Linked DNA regions of Homo sapiens: all the other regions are linked to region 2. Evidence: fine-mapped expression QTL. A gene starts in region 2. Each other region holds a variant in brackets. All regions are shown on one strand. Distances are between the middles of the regions.

Region 1 (6,488 bases), 23 kb after region 2:
TTTTATCCTTTCACAAATGCCATCCTGCCTTAATTACTGTGGTTGCATAGGAAGTCTTGAAATCAAGTAATGTGAGTCCTTTTATGTTTAAACTATTTTGAATATAAATGTGCCTCTTTCGTAGGCAGCATGTAGCTGGGGTTGCTTTATATTTTCCATTTCTGAGCTTTTGCTTTATTATTTCTTCTGGTCTATCTTCCAATTCACTTATTCTCTCTTTATCTTTTCCTAATCTACTCTTAAGCCCTTCCATTGACTTCTTAACTTTACTTATTATGCATTTTATCTCTAGAAGTTATATTTCATTTTTTTCAAATCTGCTTATTCATTTTTATAGTCTTCTGATTATTTTTCGTACTTTCATTAACCTCTCATTTCTTTGAATATATTAAATATATTTATTTTATATTCTGTGCTGACAGTTCAAATATCCTAAGTCTTTTATACCACTCCTGTTTGTTTTTTTTTGGTTTTTTTTGAGATGGAGTCTTGCTCTGTCGCCCAGGCTGGAGTGCAGTAGCGCCATCTCGGCTCACTGCAAGCTCCACCTCCTGGGTTCACGCCATTCTCCTGCCTCAGCCTCCCGAGTAGCTGGGACTACAGGCACCCACCACCACGCCCGGCTAATTTTTTTTTTTTTTTTTTTAAGACAGAGTCTCACTCTGTCACCCAGGCTGGAGTCCAGTGGTACGATCTCTGCTCATTGCAACCTCCGCCTCCCGGGTTCACGCCATTCTCCTGCCTCAGCCTCCCGAGTAGCTGGGACTACAGGCGCCCACCACCATGCCCGGCTAATTTTTTTGTATTTTTAGTAGAGATGGGGTTTCACCATGTTAGCCAGGATGGTCTCGATCTCCTTACCTCGTGATCCACCTGCCTCGGCCTCCCAAAGTGCTGGGGTTACAGGCGTGAGCCACCGCACCTGGATGATTTTTTTTTTATGTGTGCATTCCGGTTTCTCTTTTACTCTGTACTCATTTTTCTTGAATCTTTATTTGTGAGAATTATTTTGATCTCTTTCTCTAAATAGAATTTGCATTTGATTCTGCCGGATGCCTGAATGCATGGCCCCCTCAAAAACACTTTAGAACTCTCTGTGCTTAAGGTTTTTGCAAAACACATCTATACTGGAGTTGAGCCCACACACCCATATAAATCCAGCTTGTTATAATTCTCAGGGACAATTTTTGACCTCTTTGTGTAACACTAACATTTGAGGCAAGAAATTGATTTTCTTTGATTTTTTTTTCATTGACCCACACACGGAGTACTCCTTGTGTTCCAGCTTTATGAGGGAAAATAACCTATTAGTCCCCTATGCTTGGGCTTATTCTAAGCTTTCCTCCTTTTTCCTGTGTCCCTTGTAGCTGCTGGGACTGGAATGCTCAAATTTACTTGAGTCCAGCTGAAGGCTGGCCTCTGCTTACCTCTCTAGGTTTCCACGTTCCCTTTTAAAGAGGCCAGGACCATTCCCACCGCTCCCACTCCCTCTCTTATATTCCTGAACTTTCATCCCTCAGAAAACACACTTTATTTCCATGTCTTTGCTCATGCTGCTGCCTTGAGAGTGTCCTTTTCCTCATCCCCCTCTGTAACCAGGACTTTCTAAAGACCCTTTCTAAGCCTTACTGTCTTTACAGCACCTAACCCAGTGTTGTTAAATCCAGTGTTTTTATCCCCGTTTTGTCTCTATATTCTGTAAATGCTAGCTTCATAGCCCTGTAACCTTATTCACTCTGGCCTGAAAGGTACTTGAGAATGTGATTTTTTTCTACTCATTTTTAAATTTCTAGTACCTGTTATGGTTCCTGGAATCTTTTTTTTTTTTTTTTTTTAGACGGAATCTTGCTCTGTCACCAGGCTGGAGTGCAGCGGCACAATCTCAGCTCACTGCAACCTCTACCTTCTGGGTTCAAGCTATTCTCCTGTCTCAGCCTCCCGAGTAGCTGGGATTACAGGCACACACCACCACACTTGGCTAATTTTTGTATTTTTGGTAGAGATGGGGTTTTACAGTGCTGGCCAGGCTGGTCTCCAACTCCTGACCTCAGGTGATCCACCTGCCTTGGCCTCCCAAAGTGCTGAGATTTCAGGTGTGAGCCACCACACCCAGATGGTTCCTGGAATCTTAATTGCTCAATATGTGTGTTTTGGAAGATACCTAAAATAGCTGGCCAGTTCTTACTTGGGAGCAGAATCACTCCCAGAGGAAAGAGAGTGTTTTTGTTTTTGTTGTTGTTTATTTATTTATTTATTTATTTGAGACAGAGTCTTGCTCTGTTGCCCAGGCTGCATGCAGGTGCACGATCTTGGCTCACTGCAACCTCCACCTCCCAGGTTCAAGTGATTCTCCTGCCTCAGCCTCCCTGGTAGCTGGGATTGCAGGTGCCCACCACCACCCCCAGCTAATTTGTGTGTGTGTGCATGTGTGTGTGTGTGTGT[T/GTT]TAATAGAGTTGGGGTTTCACCATGTTGGCCAGGCTGGTCTTGAATTCCTGACCTCAGGTGATCCGCCCACCTCAGCCTCCCAAAGTGCTGGGATTACAGGCATAAGCCACCGTGCCCAGCCAGTGACTGAGAGATATTACTGTCATTAGCAGACAGAGGCCAGGCATGCTGAAGGGCTCAACTGCATGGAACAGTATTCCTTACCTAAGAATGGTTCTCAAATACTAGTGGCACCTTCTTTGAGAACCACTGTATTGTTTAAAGACAACCTATTCTGGTTTCTTGTTCAGTGGATAGGTACATGGATGAATGAATTCACAATGATAAATATTTTTAAAACATTCCTTCCTCAAGGCATAATGCAAGATTATTATATTTATTATATTAGATTATATTGGTTATTCATTATTGTGTCACAAATTACCCCAAACCTCAAGGGCTGAAAACAACAAACATTGATCTGTTTCTGGGTTTTGGAATCTGCCAGGTACTTGCCCAGTTGGTTCTGGTTGAGGGTCTCACATGATGCAGTGATGAAGGTGTTGAGAAGGGCTGCAGCGAGGAAGGAGCTGGCTCCTCCAGGCTCACTCAGTGGCTGTTGGGAAGCCTCAGTTCCACGGCACATGAGCTTCCACATGGCGGCCTTACAACACAGCAGCCAGACTCCTCCAGAGAGAGAGAGTGCCCAGGATAGAAGTTGCATTTCTTTCTAACCTAGTCTTGGAAGTGGCATCTCATCATGTTTCCCTGTTCTGTTCAGGACAATGAGTCAGTGAGTCCAGCCCACGGTCAAGAGGGGAGGATTATGCAAAAGCATGAATACCGGAGTCAGAGGTCACTGGGGCCATCTTAGAGGCCACCTACCACAAATACAGAAGAAAGTATTTTACAAGACCAAATGAGAACCACTTCAGGTTTAACAGGGATTATGCTTTTCCAGATATCATTTGAGGATGTGGCTGTGGATTTCACGCTGGAGGAATGGCAGCTACTTAATCCTACTCAGAAGAACTTGTACAGAGATGTGATGTTGGAGAACTATAGCAATCTGGTTTTCTTGGGTAAGAACATTCTTATGTAACTTAGTGTATGGCCAGTAACTGGCCTGTGAGGTGTTTGTTTATTTTGGATGTAAGTTTTACATGTCAAAGATTATTTGACTTTTATACTGAATTGAAAGATTTTCATTCACTTGCTTTATTTTGCAGCCTTTATAATAAAACATTCTACATATTTAAGACTCTTAGCCCAGGCAGTTAGGTCCAAGTCCTCTGTGTTTCCAATCGACAGGTTTTCAAATTCTCAAACCTGATGCAATGTTCAAACTGGAACAACAAGATCCATGGATAATAGGTCAAGAAATCCTAAATCAGAACTTTTCAGGTGAGGAATAATCAGGTTTATGAGATACAGTGAACATTTTATCTCAGGTTTTTGATGACAGGTGGGCACTTTTAAAGTGTTGTTTATAAAACTGTGTTTAAAGTTCCTGAATCTTTAGAGTTGACTCAAGATTGGTGACATGAGTTTTAATGGATGTGCTCCATAACCTGGTCTCCACATCGGGATGTGTCTTTTCTCCATGGAGTTTATGATGAAATGTATCCCTCTTATTCAGTGGCATAGATTGGTGGCCATTTACAACCCCACTTTCTTAGTTAAGGCTCTCTTTATGAATTCATAATTTTTTTCTTCTTTTAGATAACACTGATTGCCTTTGAGTTTATTTAAACTTCAAACTTTTAATTTATTATTTTTCTTCTCTTCCTCTAATTTGATATATTTCTATTTTAAAACCACAGAGAGTAGAAGATGAACCCACTGATACAGAGTGAAAATCTAGGCTGGGCGCAGTAGCTCATACTGTAATCCTCATGCTGTGGAGGTTGGGGAGAGGGCAGGGCACGACAGTCACTTAAGGCCAGGAGTTTGAGACCAACCTGGGCAACAAAGCAAGACCCCATATCTACTACTACTAATAATACCTAACAATAATAATAATAATTCAGCCAAATATGGTGGTGTGCACCTCTAGTGCCAGCTACCTGGGAGGCTGAGGTGGGAGGATTGCTTGACCCAAGGAGCTGGAAGCTGCAGTGTGCCATGGATGTGCTAGGCAACAGAGTGAGACCCTGTCTCTAAAAACAAAAACACACACACACAAAACCCTAATACCTTAAACATAGTAAGGAGATTTTGCTTCTTACCTTCCTCTGTACAAACTAAGGATTTTCAAGTCAGTTCCCAGTGCATCTTTCTGGTACATTTGATGTTTAACTTCTCTAAAGCTTCTCTCTCATACCATCACATAGTCAGGTGGGTTTAAGTCTCCATTACCTGCTGTGTGATATTTAATCTCCGTTTTTGTTGAAGAATCTCATGGTATGGGAACATCTTATCTCTCCACTTATTTTTCTATGCTCAAGAGTCATTATTAACTCCATTTGAGCTAGATTTGTGCTCAAGAGTCATTATTAACTCCATCTGAGCTAGATTCTTCCTCACACGCTCTTCTGAAATTTTTCTCTGCATCTGTACCTCTGATTATGGTACATTTTCCCCAGGTAGACTTCACTTTGAGCTCTTTTCTTCAACTTCAGTGAATGTTCCTTGACTCACAGCTTTCTCTGAAATCTCTATCCACGTAGCATCTATAGTATAGTAACTCAGGCCTGATGGACATTATCTGAAATTCCTAAAACAACTAGTCCTAAGATTTTTTTCCCCATAAAGAGAGATTGCCAGTAACGTAGTCTGTGTTCTCTGTGGAATTTGTGGTATGCACTTACTTGATTTTTAAAAATTGGTTATTATGGACCCAGATAAGGAAAGGTCTTGTTTATCAGATGTCCCTTCAGTAGAAAAGTTTCCATCTAAGCCTCTACCCTGGGAAATATTTATTTAAAAAATTTTTTTGAGACAAGGTCTCACTTTGTCACGCAGGTTGGAGTACAGTGGCGCAGTCACAGCTTACTGCAGCCTTAACCTATCTGGACTCATGAGCTCCTCCCACTTTAGCCTCCCCAGTAGCTGAGACTACCACCACACCAAGCTAATTTTTAAAAATTTGGTTTTTCTGGAGAGACAGGATCTCACTATGTTGCCCAGGCTGGTCTCAAACTCTGGGTTCAAGTGATCCTCCCGCCTTGGCCTCCCCAAGTGCTGGGATTACAGGAAGAGCCATAATGCACAGCAGGGAAACTGAGATTACAGGGGTGAGGCATAATGCACAGCAGGGAAATATTTCGGGTTACAGATGTCTGGGCACCATTCCCATTGTTGTTTAGGTCTGAGTGTGTGCAGTTTGGAAAAGCTGTAAAGATAGTTGTTATATTCCCCTATTAATTTAGAACCACTTCTCATGTGGAATGAGAGGAATTGAAATGAGTCATGAAATAACTTTATAGGATTTTAATTTAGAAGACAATATAAAACCATAAAATATTTAGTGATGCAGTATTTGAACATGAAGCATTTGTGTTAAAGTGCAAAATTAATTGCCAAGATTAATGATACCAAAAGGAACTATATTAGAAGCTCAATGACAAGTGAATAATATTTATCCTACCTATATTGAGGGCTTGTTATGTGCTATGCAGTGGGGGTACATTAGTGAAAAAGACAAACCTGTTCCCTACACTCATACAGTTTACATTCTACTGGGAGAGACACGAGTAAGAGGATTACCTATTTGATAAGTACTATGAAGGAAAGAAATAAAGAGGGTATTTGTTGGTGTGCCATCAGAATGACATTTTGGTGGGCGTGACATGGTGGCTCATGCCTGTAATCCCAGTGCTTTGGGAGGCCAAGACAGGAGTATTGCTTGAGGCTGGGAGTTGCAGGCCCGCCTGGGCAACATAGCAAGACCCCATCTCTACAAGAAGGATATTAAAAATTAGCCAGGTATGCTGGCACACACCTACAGTCTCAGCTACTTGTGTGATTGAGGCAGAAGGATCACTTGAGCCTGGGAGTTTGCAGCTGCAGTGAGGTATGACCCTACCTCGTCACTCCTTGGGCGACACAGTGATATCCTGTCTCT
Region 2 (6,488 bases):
TCATGCCTGTAATCCCAGCACTTTGGGAGGCCAAGACAGGCGGATCACCTGAGGTCATGAGTTCGACACCAGCCTGGCCAACATGGTGAAGCCTCGTCTCTACAAAAATACAAAAAATTAGCCAGGCATGATGGTGGGTGCCTGTAATCCCAGCTACTCGGGGGGCAGAGGCGGGAGAATTGCTTCAACCCAGGAGGCAGAGGTAGCAGTGAACTGAGATCGCGCCACTGCACTCCAGCCTGGGTGACAGAGCAAGACTCCATCTCAAAAAAAAAAAAAAAAAAAAGGCGTATAAATTCTAGTAAGTCATTTAATAAATGACACGCTTAACCTCGGAGAAAAGTGAAAATCATAAATCTGTGAACAGCAAAATTTTCTGAGAACAAAAACAAAACTACCTTAAAGCAGAATTTTAATTTTAGCTCTGTTGAGCATGGAATTGGTTTGCTTAAATAAAGTTGAATCTCAGTTAGAAGCAGGGCAATGTGGGCTGGGTACGGTGGCTCAGGTCTGTAATCCCAGCACTTTGGGAGTCCGAGACGCATGGATCACCAGAGGTCAGGAGTTTGAGACCAGCCTTGCCAACATGGTGAAACCCATCTCTACTAAAAATACAAAAAGTAGCTGGGAGTGGCTGGGCGCAGTGGCTCACGCCTGTAATCCCAGCACTTCGGGAGGCCGAGGCAGGCGGATCACGAGGTTAAGAGATCAAGATCAGCCTGACCAACATGGTGAAACCACGTCTCTACTAAAAATACAAAAATTAGCCGGGCGTGGTGGCGCACGCCTGCAATCCCAGCTACTCGGGAGGCTGAGGCAGGAGAATCACTTGAACTCAGGAGGCGGAGGCTGCAGTGAGCCGATATTGTGCCACTGCACTCCAGCCTGGGCGACAAGAGCAAAACTCCATCTCTCACAGGCTCCAAATTTACTAATATAGAATTGAGCAAAATATTATTTCATATATACTTTAATTTGGTCTTTATGGCCATTTCAATTTTTTAAATTGCCAATTGTGAGTGTGTTTCCTGTTTCTCCCCATTTTTATTTTAAAAAACTAATATGCTTTTACAGTTTTTCTTTTTCTTTTTTTTTTTTTTTAGACAGAATCTCACTCTGTCTCCCAGGGTGGAGTGCAGTGGTGAGATCTCAGCTCACTGCAACCTCTGCCTCCTGGGTTCAAGCAATTCTCATGCCTCCACCTCCTGAGTAGGTGGGATTACAGGTATGAGCCATTACAGGCATGAGCCACCACACCTGGCTAATTTTTATATTTTTAGTACAGATGGGGTTTCACCATGTTGGTCAGGCTGGTCTCGAACTCCTGACCTCAGGTGATCCGCCCGCCTTAGCCTCCCAAAGTGCTGGGATTACAGGTGTGAGCCACCGCGCCTGGCCTGGCCAAAAAATATTTTTAAGAGAAGGTGTCTCCCTCTGTGGCCCAGGCTGGAGTGCAGTGTTGCCATCATAGCTCACTGCAGCCTCAACCTCCCAGGCTCAGGCAATCCTCCTGCCTCAGCCTCCAGTAGTTGGGACTACAGGGACAAGCCACTGCTTTATATATCCATAAATATATTTTATTTCCCTGTAATGTCCTCATCTCATTTATTTTTCCTTTTTTTTTTCTTGAGATGAGGTCTCACTCTGTTGCCAGGCTAGAGTGCAGCGGCATGATGGCTCACCGCAACCCCCGCCTCCCGAGTTCAAGTGATTCTCCTGCCTCAGCCTCCCGAGTAGATGGGATTACAGGCGCCCACCACCACGCCCAGCTAATGTTCTGTATTTTTAGTAGAGACGGGGTTTCACCGTGTTGGCCAGGATGGTCTCAATCTCCTGACCTGGTGATCCGCCCACCTCAGCCTCCCAAAGTGCTGGGATTACAGCCGTGAGCCACCGCGCCCAACCCTATCATCTATTTTCATTCCTTTTGTCAATACTGCTGGATTGGATGTACTAAATGTAAGGTCCTCTGAGCTGGCCGCACCATGGTCAAGCCATCGTGACATTCCCCCACCCTTGTGATAATGTACTTTGTAATATTCCCGGTCCTTGTGAATGTACTTTGTAACATTCCTCTCCGCCCTTGTGACAATACACCCTCCCCGCCCTTGTGAATGTACTTTGTAACATCCTCCCCTGCCCGCAAAAAATTGCTGCTGAGGCCGGGCGCGGTGGCTCACGCCCGTAATCCCAGCACTTTGGGAGGCCGAGGAGGGCGGATCACGAGGTCAGGAGATCAAGACCATCCTGGCTAACACAGTGAAACCCCGTCTCTACTAAAAATACAAAAAAATTAGCCGGGCGTGGTGGCGGGTGCCTGTAGTCCCAGCTACTCAGGAGGATGAGGCAGGAGAATGGCGTGAACCCGGGAGGCGGAGCTTGCAGTGAGCCGAGATCGCGCCACTGCACTCCAGCCTCGGCGACAGAGTGAGACTCTGTCTCAAAAAAAAAAAAAAAAAAAAAAATTGCTGCTGACTCCACCGCCTATCCTATCCCAAAGCTATAAGAACCAATGACAAGCCCACCACCCTCCGCTGACTCCTTTCTCAGACTCAGCCCACTTGCACCCAAGTGAATAAACAGGCGTGTTGCTCACACTTAGCCTGCTCAGGTGGTCTCCTATACGGACGCACGTAACACTAACATTTACCGATATTACTTACAGCTACGATGAAAAATGGAAAAGCAGCCGGACGCAGTGACTCATGCCTGTAATTCCAGCATTTTGGGAGGCTGGGGCAGGAGGATCATTTGAACCCAGGAGTCGGAGACCAGCCTGAGGCTGCAATGAGCGTTCATGGCACCACTGCACTCCCCACTGGGTGACAGAGCGAGACCCTGCCTCCAAAAAAAAAAAAAAAAAAAACAAGGAAAAGATGCAGACGCTTCCTCCTGGAGGCGCCTTTAGGTTCTCTCACAGACATGTTGGGCCAGCAGTGCTGGCTCCATCCTAGATTTCTTCCAGTCCTCCCCAGTTAGCCGCCAAGGGGCTTTTCCAACCGGAAACCTCCAATCCGCGACCCCGGCGGGTGCACCGCCGAGCCCCCCGGGAAGTGTAGTTCCAGCGCGAGCGGGACGCTGGGAAATGTAGTTCTGCGCGTTCACGTCCCCGATCGGGCCGTGTCCGCCGCGGCCCTGCGAGGTCCGAGGGGTAAGGGAGCGTGCAGCGGGGGCGGGACCACGAGGCGGCGGGGCTGGGGGCGGCCTCTGTGTCTGCGCCGGGGATCGCGGTGACCCCGCTGCGGACCGGCTCGCGGTGACCCCAGCGCGAACGAGCTGGCTGCCGGCTGGGGCGAGAAAGGCCTGCGGACCGGCCTGGGCGCATGCGCGGAAGGCGGGCCTCAGGCGGGGGCTCTGGGGGCGCGCGGGGGTGGGAGGCAGAGGGTGGGGTGGGGGCTGTAGGGCGGGCGGCGGCGGGGCGCTGAATGTGGGTGTCGGGGGAGATTTGGGGTCAGCTGGGCGATTCACTGGGGGCCTATGGAGGTCGCTGTAGACTTGGGGTGCAGCACGGGCGGGGCAAGGGGACGCGAGGTTGCCCTTGGCCCCAGGGGAGAGGGGCCCCTGGGAGGCCGTGTGGAGGATTTGTCTGCAGCGATTAGGACTCTGCTGATGAATGATTTGGATGCCTTTGGGTGAGCATTGGAGGCCAGCGGGGTGAATGATGAGGCTTCTGCGGGGGCCTGCGTTGGAGGGCTTAGGGGCTTGCTTGTGTGGGTTCCATTCACTGGAAAGCCTGCCGGCTGTGACAGTGTTGGATTTCACCAGAGCCCTGTGCTCCTGGAAAACAGCGAAGGTTGAGGAATTTCCCACCCTTTTGGGTTCCAGCAAATGGCTCACTGCAAAGATCTCCCGTTCCCTATATGACTTTGGTCAGCCTCCAGGATGCCCCTTGTTCACACAGACCTGCCACGTTGCCGTCGCTTGCCTCATCGGTGACTGGCTGAACTCCACCGAGCGGTCGGAGCAAAATGCTCCTTAAGCAAACTTTAGCTAAGCTTCTTTCCTTTCCCCATTTTCTTGAGCTTTGGCCCATCCCCAGCCTGAGCCAACACGCAGCCTCGCCTGAGAACAGGCTGGCTCAGGGTCAAGCTTTCCCCGCTCTGCTGTCTGGTCGCCCGCACTTCCACCTCGCTTGGCCAGGCCTGGTCTTTGCTAACCTTGTTCACACCTCTCTGTGAAAGAAAAACCCTTTTTGCCTTGCAGAGATGCACGTGAGTCTCGTGGCTTCACGGTTCTTCCCAGAAGCCCGTTCTCCTTCCCCTTCCCAACCCTCTTCCGCGTCTTTTTTTCCCCACTTCCAATAACCCTTTGGAACCGTCTTTCTTTGCTCTGTCCAGTTGTATGTTTTATTTGACAGCTGAATAACAGTGGTTGCTCTTTCAACCCCTGTCTCCAATAGCGGAGGCGAGTATGGGGTGGCCTATGCTGGCGAGTGGCTGGGGTTTGTTTCTGTGCTTGTGTTTGGGGATCTTATGATGGAAGCATTAGGAATGGCGCTGTGTATTTGTGACAAGGGAGTCTGGATGTAAGTTAATGGTGGACCTGTTGCAAGTTGTGAGTGCGTGGACAACGGGGGTCATACTTGGCGTCATTGGAGGGGCCTGCGGGATCGGCATTTGTGCAGAGCCCCACAATCCCTTTCCAGGTGGTGTTTGGGAGGGCCTGTGGGAATGTCAGTGAATGCTCCAGCATGGAGTGGATTAGAGAATGGGGTGTCATGGGGGCGAATGCTTGGGGGCCCCGGGGATAAGGGATTAGGGATCCCTGGGCATTGAGTGACTGGGGTCTAATTTAGGGGGTCTGTGGCGCAAGCCTCAGAATGTCAGTTACAGGGGAGGGGCTCTGTGAGCGCCTGACTTGGGCACCTGATGAAGTGAGTGAATGGAGACCAGTGTGTTCGTCCCAGGACAGAAGCCCCTTCTCCTCCCCTCCCCACCCTTCTCCTCCCCTCCCTACCCTTCTCCTCCCCCATCCTTCTCATCCCCTCCCCACCTCACCTGCAGGAGTGACTGAAGCCCCTTCTCCCCCGCTCCCCACCCTTCTCCTCCCCTCCCCAGCTCATCTGCAGGAGTATCTGAGTTCTGTGGGGATCCTTTGGGACTCAGAGTTTGGGGTTTCAGTCTGTGGTGATTCTTAAGTGGGGCTTTGGGGGTGCTGGTGATTATGGTGTCTGGCATCTGTATTTAAAAGCCCTGTGGGAGTCACTGAGGTCCAGTCATCAGTTGGGCCTGTAGGGATAACTCTGCCTGGCCTGTGAGGTCTATGGTGTGACGTAGGAATGGTAAGTGTCTGGGGGCCTGTGGAGGATTAGGAATAAAGGGTCCAGTGTACATCGTTGAATGGGGGACAGTTTTATTGGCTCGTGCCCTGGCATTGGCTTTGTTATTTGAGGGTGTTGGAACCAGGTGAGAAGGAGCTTGTTTGTATTAGTGACCGGGTACCAGAGATGACTGAATGACTGATGGGGTGGGCAGTGAGGTCTGTGAGGAGGAATGATCGGAGGGCTTGGGATCAATGCCAAGTATGCGTGCAAGTGTCTGTGATGGGTGTGCGGGTGGGTGAGGGTGAGAAATTGGGGACCCTGTGGGTGTCAGTGAGAGGGAAGCCTGGGGAGCCTAAGAGTTTGTTTGCCATTTGCGGTGAATGTGGAGTTAGAAGTTAGTGGCCTTAGCTGGGCACCGTGGCTCACACCTGTAATCCCAGCACTTTGGGAGGCTGAGGCAGGCAGATCAGGAGGTCAAGAGATCCACACCATCCTGGCCAACATGGTGAAACCCCGTCTCTACTAAAAATACAAAAATTAGCTGGGCATGGTGGTGGGCGCCTGTAATCCCACCTACTCAGGAGGCTGAGGCAGGAGAATTGCTTGAACCCAGGAGGCAGAGGTTGCAGTGAACCGAGATTTTGCCACTGCACTCCAGCCTGATGACAGAGTGAGACTCCATCTTAAAAAAGATAATAATAAGTTAGTGGCCTTTGGGTATCTGTGATTAGTGGTCTATACTGTGCCAGTCTGTGGAGTCTGTGGTCAGGTGTTTCTGGAGGCTGTTGTGGGGCCACTAGAGTTACCGCCTGGGGTCTTTGTTGGATGGTCACTGGGGAACCCATAGTGTGTGTCTCTGAAGGCCCTGGAGGGGCGGCCTCTTGGGGAGAGAGACTGGGTGGCCTGTGAAGTCAGCCATTGTGGTCCTGTGGGAGTGATGGGGGCACATGGGGTGAGTGAGAGTGGGGTTGATGGGGTTCGGTGGTTGTGTGGTCTGGAGGTCTGTGAAGCAGGCCTATTGGATTCAGTGATCTGGGGATGTCTTGGGATGTGGACCTGGAGAATTCTCAGGTGGTCACTGTGAGTGACTGGGGGACTTGGGATGCTGGAGGTTGGCAGGGGCTTGGAGCTGCGGAGTTCAGTGGTTTGTGTCTGGGGTGTGTGTGTGATGGAGGCCCTCTCTGGGACTTGGTAATCCGGGGAACTTGGCAGGGCCGTGTTGGTG
Region 3 (6,488 bases), 34 kb after region 2:
ATAGTTCTGTAAGGAAGTGGTGTTCTTTATACATCAATTATTACAAAAAGCAGTGAATTGTAAGTGTGAGGTGTGTTTACTTAGATGTGAAGAGTTCTCCTTACTGCTGTGATGGAATAACAAGGGTCAGATTTCCTCTCCTGCCTTAAACAACTGGAAGCTATACAATACGTATAATAGGTAATGGTTTTTAGACATAGGACAAGCACAGGTTTGTGATCCTCAGGAGACTGCAGACAGAGTGAGGTGAGCACCATGGTTTCTCAGCCTGCCCCCGCATGGCAGTTCCTAGGTTGCAGTTCAGGGAAGGGAAACAATAAATCTCGCTGAATTGAAGAGACAGGACTGGCAGTTGGGGAGGCCACAGCAGCTAGAATTTCCAGGGGAAAGTACTGGAGAGATGGGATCCTTCTAGATACAGGGCTCAAGAAGTCTGCTGGGAGTCCCCTGAGTCCTTTGACTTAGTACTGACTTGCACTGAGGCCAGGAAAAGAAGCACTGGAAAGCAGCAGGCTGAACAATTCCTGGAACTCATGCAGGGCTGGGAATAGTTTATGTTCTCAGCAGCCAGAGTGGAAACAGAGTGGAAACACATGGAGCATCAGGTAGAATTCTCAGAAAGGTTTTGTTTTAGTAGTGCAGCTAATTAACTCTAGATTAAAAGCTACTCTGGACCTACAGTGTCCGGCATCCAAAAAAACTAATGTGTTATGCAAAGAAGCAATAAAATATGACTTATAACCAGGAGAAAAATCAGTAGAAACCCAGAAAAGACAGAGGTGATGGAATTAGTAGACAAGGATATTAAAAGAGCTATTGTAAATATAAAGTAGAGGAAAACATAAGATTGATGAAACCTGAGGTATAAGAGATATTTTTACTGGCCAAAATGGAACTTCTAGGGATGAAATCAACTTCTGATTTTGTTAAAATCCCGAGTGGAGAGATTAGATACAGAAAAAGAAGAAAAAATCAATGAACTTGAAGAGTAAGAATAAAAACTACCAAAGTGATATACAGAGAGAAAAAAAGACTTAGAGAAGAGGAAGAGAATAGGAAAACCATTACAGTAGTGTAATATATGTTTAACTGGAGTCCCAGAAGGAGAGGAGAAAATGAAGAGGCATGAAGAAGTATTTGAATAAATAATGGCTAAAGATTTTCCAAATCTGGTGAAAACAATACCCCCACATATTCAAGAAGCTCAAATGACCTGAAGTAGAATAAACATAATTTACATCACAGCAGTGCACCTCAGAGTCACATTCATGAAAAGCACTGATAAACAGAATACTTTTAAAACACCTTGAGAAAAAAAGATAATACATACACATGAACAAAGAATGGCAGCATATTTCTGGTGAGAACTATGCAAGCTATAAGACAATGGAGTATTATCTCTAAATTCCTTAATGAAATAAACAACAAACCCTGCAACCTAGAATTCTGTTACTGTCAAAAACGTTTTCAAAAATGAAGGCAAAATAAAGACTGTTTCTGAGAAACTAAATCAAAGGTAATTTTATTACCTGTAGACCTGTCTTTGGGAAACATTAAAGGATGTTTGAGGGCAGCAGGAAAATAATACAAAACTTAAGTTTGGGTCTGTACAAAGGAATGAAGTTCTGAAAATGGTGAATATGTGGGTAAATATAAAAGATATTTCTCTCTTTTTAAAATCTTTTTAAAAGGGAATTGGCTGCTTAAAGCCAAAGTAATGATAACGTATTTGGAGTTTATTTAGAAGTAAAGTGTGATGACGATAACACTTAAGTGTGAATTTTTAAATATAGTTGAGTAGACTGCATCATCTGAGTTAGAAGCCTATTCCTTCAGGGCTCGGGGTAGCTTGAATTTGTAGCAGGCACATGACAGAAATTGTATGTATTGTGGATCTGCATGTGTGCTGAGTATTCCCTATTTCTTTGATCCCTTTTCCCCCATTTTCTGCTCTGCTCCCCCCTGAGGCTGTCTTCTAGAGACTGGGGTTTCTTCATAGGTTTGAACAGTGGGAGATACCAGAGGTGGGAGGAGAAAAAGTTATTTATTACCGTTCCCTTCCTCCTGCCTGGACCATGGTAGCTTCTGTGTTCCCGTAAGGATACAGCTTCCTTTGGGAAGCCCCATCTATGGCTGTAGATCTCTCGGTTTCAGTTGACACCATTCCCTCTCCATGATCTTCAGACTTAACTACTACTGGGTGCTTCCCCAACCCACTGGTTGGGTGTCTTTAATTGTGAACACATATTTGTAAATAGTGCCTTTATTAATTGTTCTTGAGTTAATATTCTGAGTGTGCCATTTATTTTCTGTGCCATCTGTTAAATGATGAGCATTTAATAAAATTGTGATAATCAGTTATCAGTACAAGTGCCGCATAGTGCATAGGCTGAAATGTCTCAAGATTCCCCACACTACATATCAGTATTTTCTATCTGTATCTGGACAATGCAGTAGAAATTATAACAAATACAAAGTTCTTTGTGCTTTTCTGCTGCATATGTCAGTGGCTCTGGAGATTGTTACCATCTGCTACATATATAAATAGACTTGCAGTTATTACTAAGCTCCTCTTCAGTAATAGAAAGACTTATGAAGTCTTTTACTACCTCTGGGTTAGCCAAACAACCTTCAAAAAGCATTGTTATTTAGGTTAAATATCTGTGGACAAGAAACAAGATAATCAGTTACTGAGTGAAGAAAGACGGGAATGATGTCCCATACTTCCCAGCTCTCTAAAGTGTTATGCTGTACAATTAAAATACCCCTGACCCATCATCTGCTACCATTCGTTGTGGATAATTCATGTAATCTCTAACCTGTGGGCAAGTCTTTACCCTTCAGTAGTCAAGATTACGTTAGAGACTTCGTCCACGAATCCACACCACCTTTCCCATCAGTTCTCACCGGAAATATGCTGCCAAAAAGAAAATCAGCTTTTCTAAGATCAAGCCAGAGTTGCTTCTCTTACAACCTTACGGCGCTAATGCATTAAGTTGAAGTCGACTGCCAAAGAGGCCCAGCAGAGGGCAGCACCCCCATCATTTTTTTGAATTTCTCCCTTAGGAATTTTGCCTTCCTTTGTCTTCTGTCCACCAGGCCTTCTCTCCAGCTGGACACAAACCTCCTTTGAAGGGAAATAATTGCCGTTAGGCTTCACAGTAGTGCTTTTTCCTTTCACTTGGATTTGCATTTTAACCTGCATTTCGAAGATTTTTATACATGTTTTCTATTTCCGACAATGCCAGGAGGCTTCATTGACGTTGTAGTCTGTGTTAATAAACTTGTGTATCACTCTGCTCTGATCTTTTAGGAATTAACTTGCAAATGAAATGAATATGTTGGGACTTTGGCATAATTTGAATATAGCATTGTGTGAGTTGTGATTGTCTCTTCCTAATTGTGCTGTAATAACCTGTGTATGAGAATAAAATGATTTCCACCATCAGGATTCTCCCATGCCCCCCTTTATTTTGCCATAGACTAAAGGGGAAAGGCCATTCTCACTCTCCTTACCTTAGAAAATTTTATTTGCCTCATGATGACTGTCTGCCGCTTAGAAGTAGACAATATAAAATCTCATCACTATTTCACAAGAATAAAATTCAAATCAGTTATATCCAAAGTAACTTTTCAACTGGGGGTGGTGTCTCACACCTGTAATCCCAGTGCTTGGGGAGGCCAAATTGGGAGGACCGCTTGAGCCCAG[GCGTTTGAGACCAGC/C]TGGACAACATAGCAAGACTCATCTCTACAAAAAAAAAATTTAATTAGCCATGAGAGGCTGGGTGCAGTGACGCAAGCCTGTAATCCCAGCACTTTGGGAGGCCGAGGTGGGTGGATCACCTGAGTTCAGGAGTTCGCGACCAGCCTGAATAACATGGTGAAACCCCGTCTCTACTAAATACAAAAAAATTAGCCGGGCATGGTGGCACATGCCTGTAATCCGAGCTACTTGGGAGGCTGAGACAAGAGAATCACTTGTACCTGGGAGGAGGAGGTTGCAGTGAGCCGAGATCACGGCATTGCACTCCAGTCTGGGCAACAAGAACAAAACTCCATCTCAAAAAAAAAGTTAGCCATGATGGTGCATGTCTGTAATCCCAGCTACTTGGGAAGCTGAGGCAGAAGGGTCACTTGAGCCCAGGAGTTCAAGGCTGCAGTGAGCCATGATGGGGCCACTGCATTCCAGCCTGAGTGACAGAGTGAAACCTTGCCTCTTAAATGAATAAAAATAAAGTAAGCTTTCTTCAACAAGTTTTCTTCCAACGCCACACACTCCATCACCATATTAATTTAAATTATTTAGTATGTAGCAGATTTACTTTGAGACCAAATCTGTGAAGTTGGTGATGATATTTAATAATTCTTTATTTCCCTTATGGGATCTTTGCAACTTAGAACACAATTATTACTCATTGTATCCGGGTCATTTAACATCTTGTCAGAATGCTAACATTAAATAAACCAGGCCAGGCGCGGTGGCTCACGCCTGTAATCCCAGCACTTTGGGAGGCCAAGGCGGGTGGATCACGAGGTCAGGAGATCGAGACCATCCTGGCTAACACGGTGAAACCCCGTCTCTACTAAAAATACAAAAAATTAGCCAGGTGAGGTGGCCAGCGCCTGTAGTCCCAGCTACTCAGGAGGCTGAGGCAGGAGAATGGCGTGAACCTGGGAGGTGGAGCTTGCAGTGAGCCAAGATCACACCACTGCACTCCAGCCTGGGTGATAGAGCGAGGCTCTGTCTCAAAAAAATAAATAAATCAGGCGCTGGGCGCGGTGGCTCACACCTGTAATCATAACACTTTGGGAGGCTAAGGCAGGCAGATCACAAGGTCAGGAGTTCGAGACCAGCCTGGCCAATATGGTGAAACCCCATCTCTACTAAAAATGCAAAAATTAGCCGGGCTTGGTGGCACGTGTGTAGTCCCAGCTACTCCGGAGGCTGAGGCAGGAGAATCGCTTGAACCCAGGAAGCCGATGTTGCAGTGAGCTGAGATCACACCACTGCACTCCAGCCTGGGTGACAGAGCAAGACTCCATCACACACACACACAAAAAAACAGGGAACACCAAACTTATTTAGTGATACCTAAATCTCGAAATGTGCACAGCAAAAAGAATGTAGCTATCGAGGCATTCACTGTTAAGATGAAAAGAAATGTAAGTGAAGGGACATTTATAACTTGAAGTTCTCATTTAAGAATTACTGGCCAGGGCCGGGCATGGTGGCTCATGCCTGTAATCTCAGCACTTTGGGAGGCCAAGATGGGTGGATCACGAGGTCAGGAGATTGAGACCATCCTGGCTAACAAGGTGAAACCCCGTCTCTACTAAAAATACAAAAAATTAGCCGCGCGTGGTGGCGGGCGCCTGTAGTCCCAGCTACTCGGGAGGCTGAGGCAGGAGAATGGCGTGAACCCGGGAGGCGGAGCTTGCAGTGAGCTGAGATCGCGCCACTGCACTCACTCTGGCCTGAGCGACAAAGCGAGACTCCATCTCAAAAAAAAAAAAAAAAAAAAAAAAGGCATTACTGGCCAGATGTGGTGGCTCATGCCTGCAATCCCAGGACTTTGGGAGGCCCAGCTGGGAGGAGAGGAGAGCTTGAGCCCAAGAGTTTGAGGCCAGCCTGGGCAACATAGTGGCACTTTGTTCTCCACAAAAATAATTAATAAAGCAAGTAAGCATTCCTATCACTAAAAGTACTTAAAAAAACAAATCAAGCTTAAACTTACAATAGGGGGTGGGAGAAGTGAATTAACTTTTTATTTTCATTAGTGCGTGCTCATGTGAAAGGAGCAGTTAGGCAATGGAGTGTTACCACTGCAGCCAGGCAGGTCTAGTGTAGATTCGTCCCCAAACCATGGTATTTGCCAGGCAGCTCTGAGGGTATGAACAAGGCATGTGCATTGTGTCCTGTTGTGTGTAATGCGTTTGTATGAAGCAGATTCTGTAAGAAGATGATGTTGGCTGAGATGTGGGCCAGCTGTACTTCACTGCTTCATTACAAGGGTAAGGCTGGCCAGGTGCGATGGCTCACGCCTGTCATCCCAGCACTTTGGGAGGCCAAGGTGGGTGGATCACTTGAGTTCAGGAGCTCAAGAGCAGCCTGGCCAACATGGCAAAACCCTATCTCTACTAAACATACAAAACAAAAAAAATAGCCGGGTGTGGTGGAGCACCTGTAAACCCAGCTGCTCGGGAGGCTGAGGTGGGCAAATCACATGAACCCAGGAGTTGGAGGTTGCAGTGAGCCAAGATGGCACCACCACTGCACTCCAGCCTGAGCAACAGAGTGAGACTCCGTCTCAAAAAAAGAGAAAACAAGGGTGGGGCTAAAAGGCTAATAGCTAACTGAAAATGAGCAGCTGTTTTTCATTCTGTGAGGAGCATCTTGTATAAGCCGTAGTGTTTGATCCACTCATCATTGCATGGGCAGCTGTGCGAGGTCAGACCTGTTACTGACACTTCCTTCTGTGCTCTGTTTG

What was found. PIP is the estimated chance that this variant, and not a neighbour inherited with it, causes the effect.
Region 1: its variant is the best candidate, but not a certain one, in a credible set for the expression of ZNF605 in prefrontal cortex (CommonMind, PIP 0.58).
Region 3: its variant is the best candidate, but not a certain one, in a credible set for the expression of ZNF605 in whole blood (TOPMed, PIP 0.58).

What each region holds. Positions count from the first base shown.
Region 1 is chr12:132,930,051-132,936,538 of GRCh38, reverse strand. It overlaps ZNF605 (zinc finger protein 605), which reads left to right. Exons shown (of 5, transcript NM_183238.4): 4 at 3,384-3,504. Among named protein-coding and RNA genes, the nearest start is that of ZNF605, 23 kb to the left of the region's middle. The variant T/GTT (reference allele first, on the strand shown) is at 2,443.
Region 2 is chr12:132,952,906-132,959,393 of GRCh38, reverse strand. It overlaps ZNF605 (zinc finger protein 605), which reads left to right and starts at 3,088. Exons shown (of 5, transcript NM_183238.4): 1 at 3,088-3,151. LOC124903064 (a long non-coding RNA gene) reads right to left here and starts at 2,845. Exons shown (of 2, transcript XR_007063552.1): 1 at 2,664-2,845. RefSeq lists enhancers at 2,878-2,957, 2,711-3,539, 3,817-4,111, 3,540-4,370 and a silencer at 3,118-3,457.
Region 3 is chr12:132,918,418-132,924,905 of GRCh38, reverse strand. It overlaps ZNF605 (zinc finger protein 605), which reads left to right. Exons shown (of 5, transcript NM_183238.4): 5 at 1-6,488. Among named protein-coding and RNA genes, the nearest start is that of CHFR-DT, 34 kb to the right of the region's middle. The variant GCGTTTGAGACCAGC/C (reference allele first, on the strand shown) is at 3,710.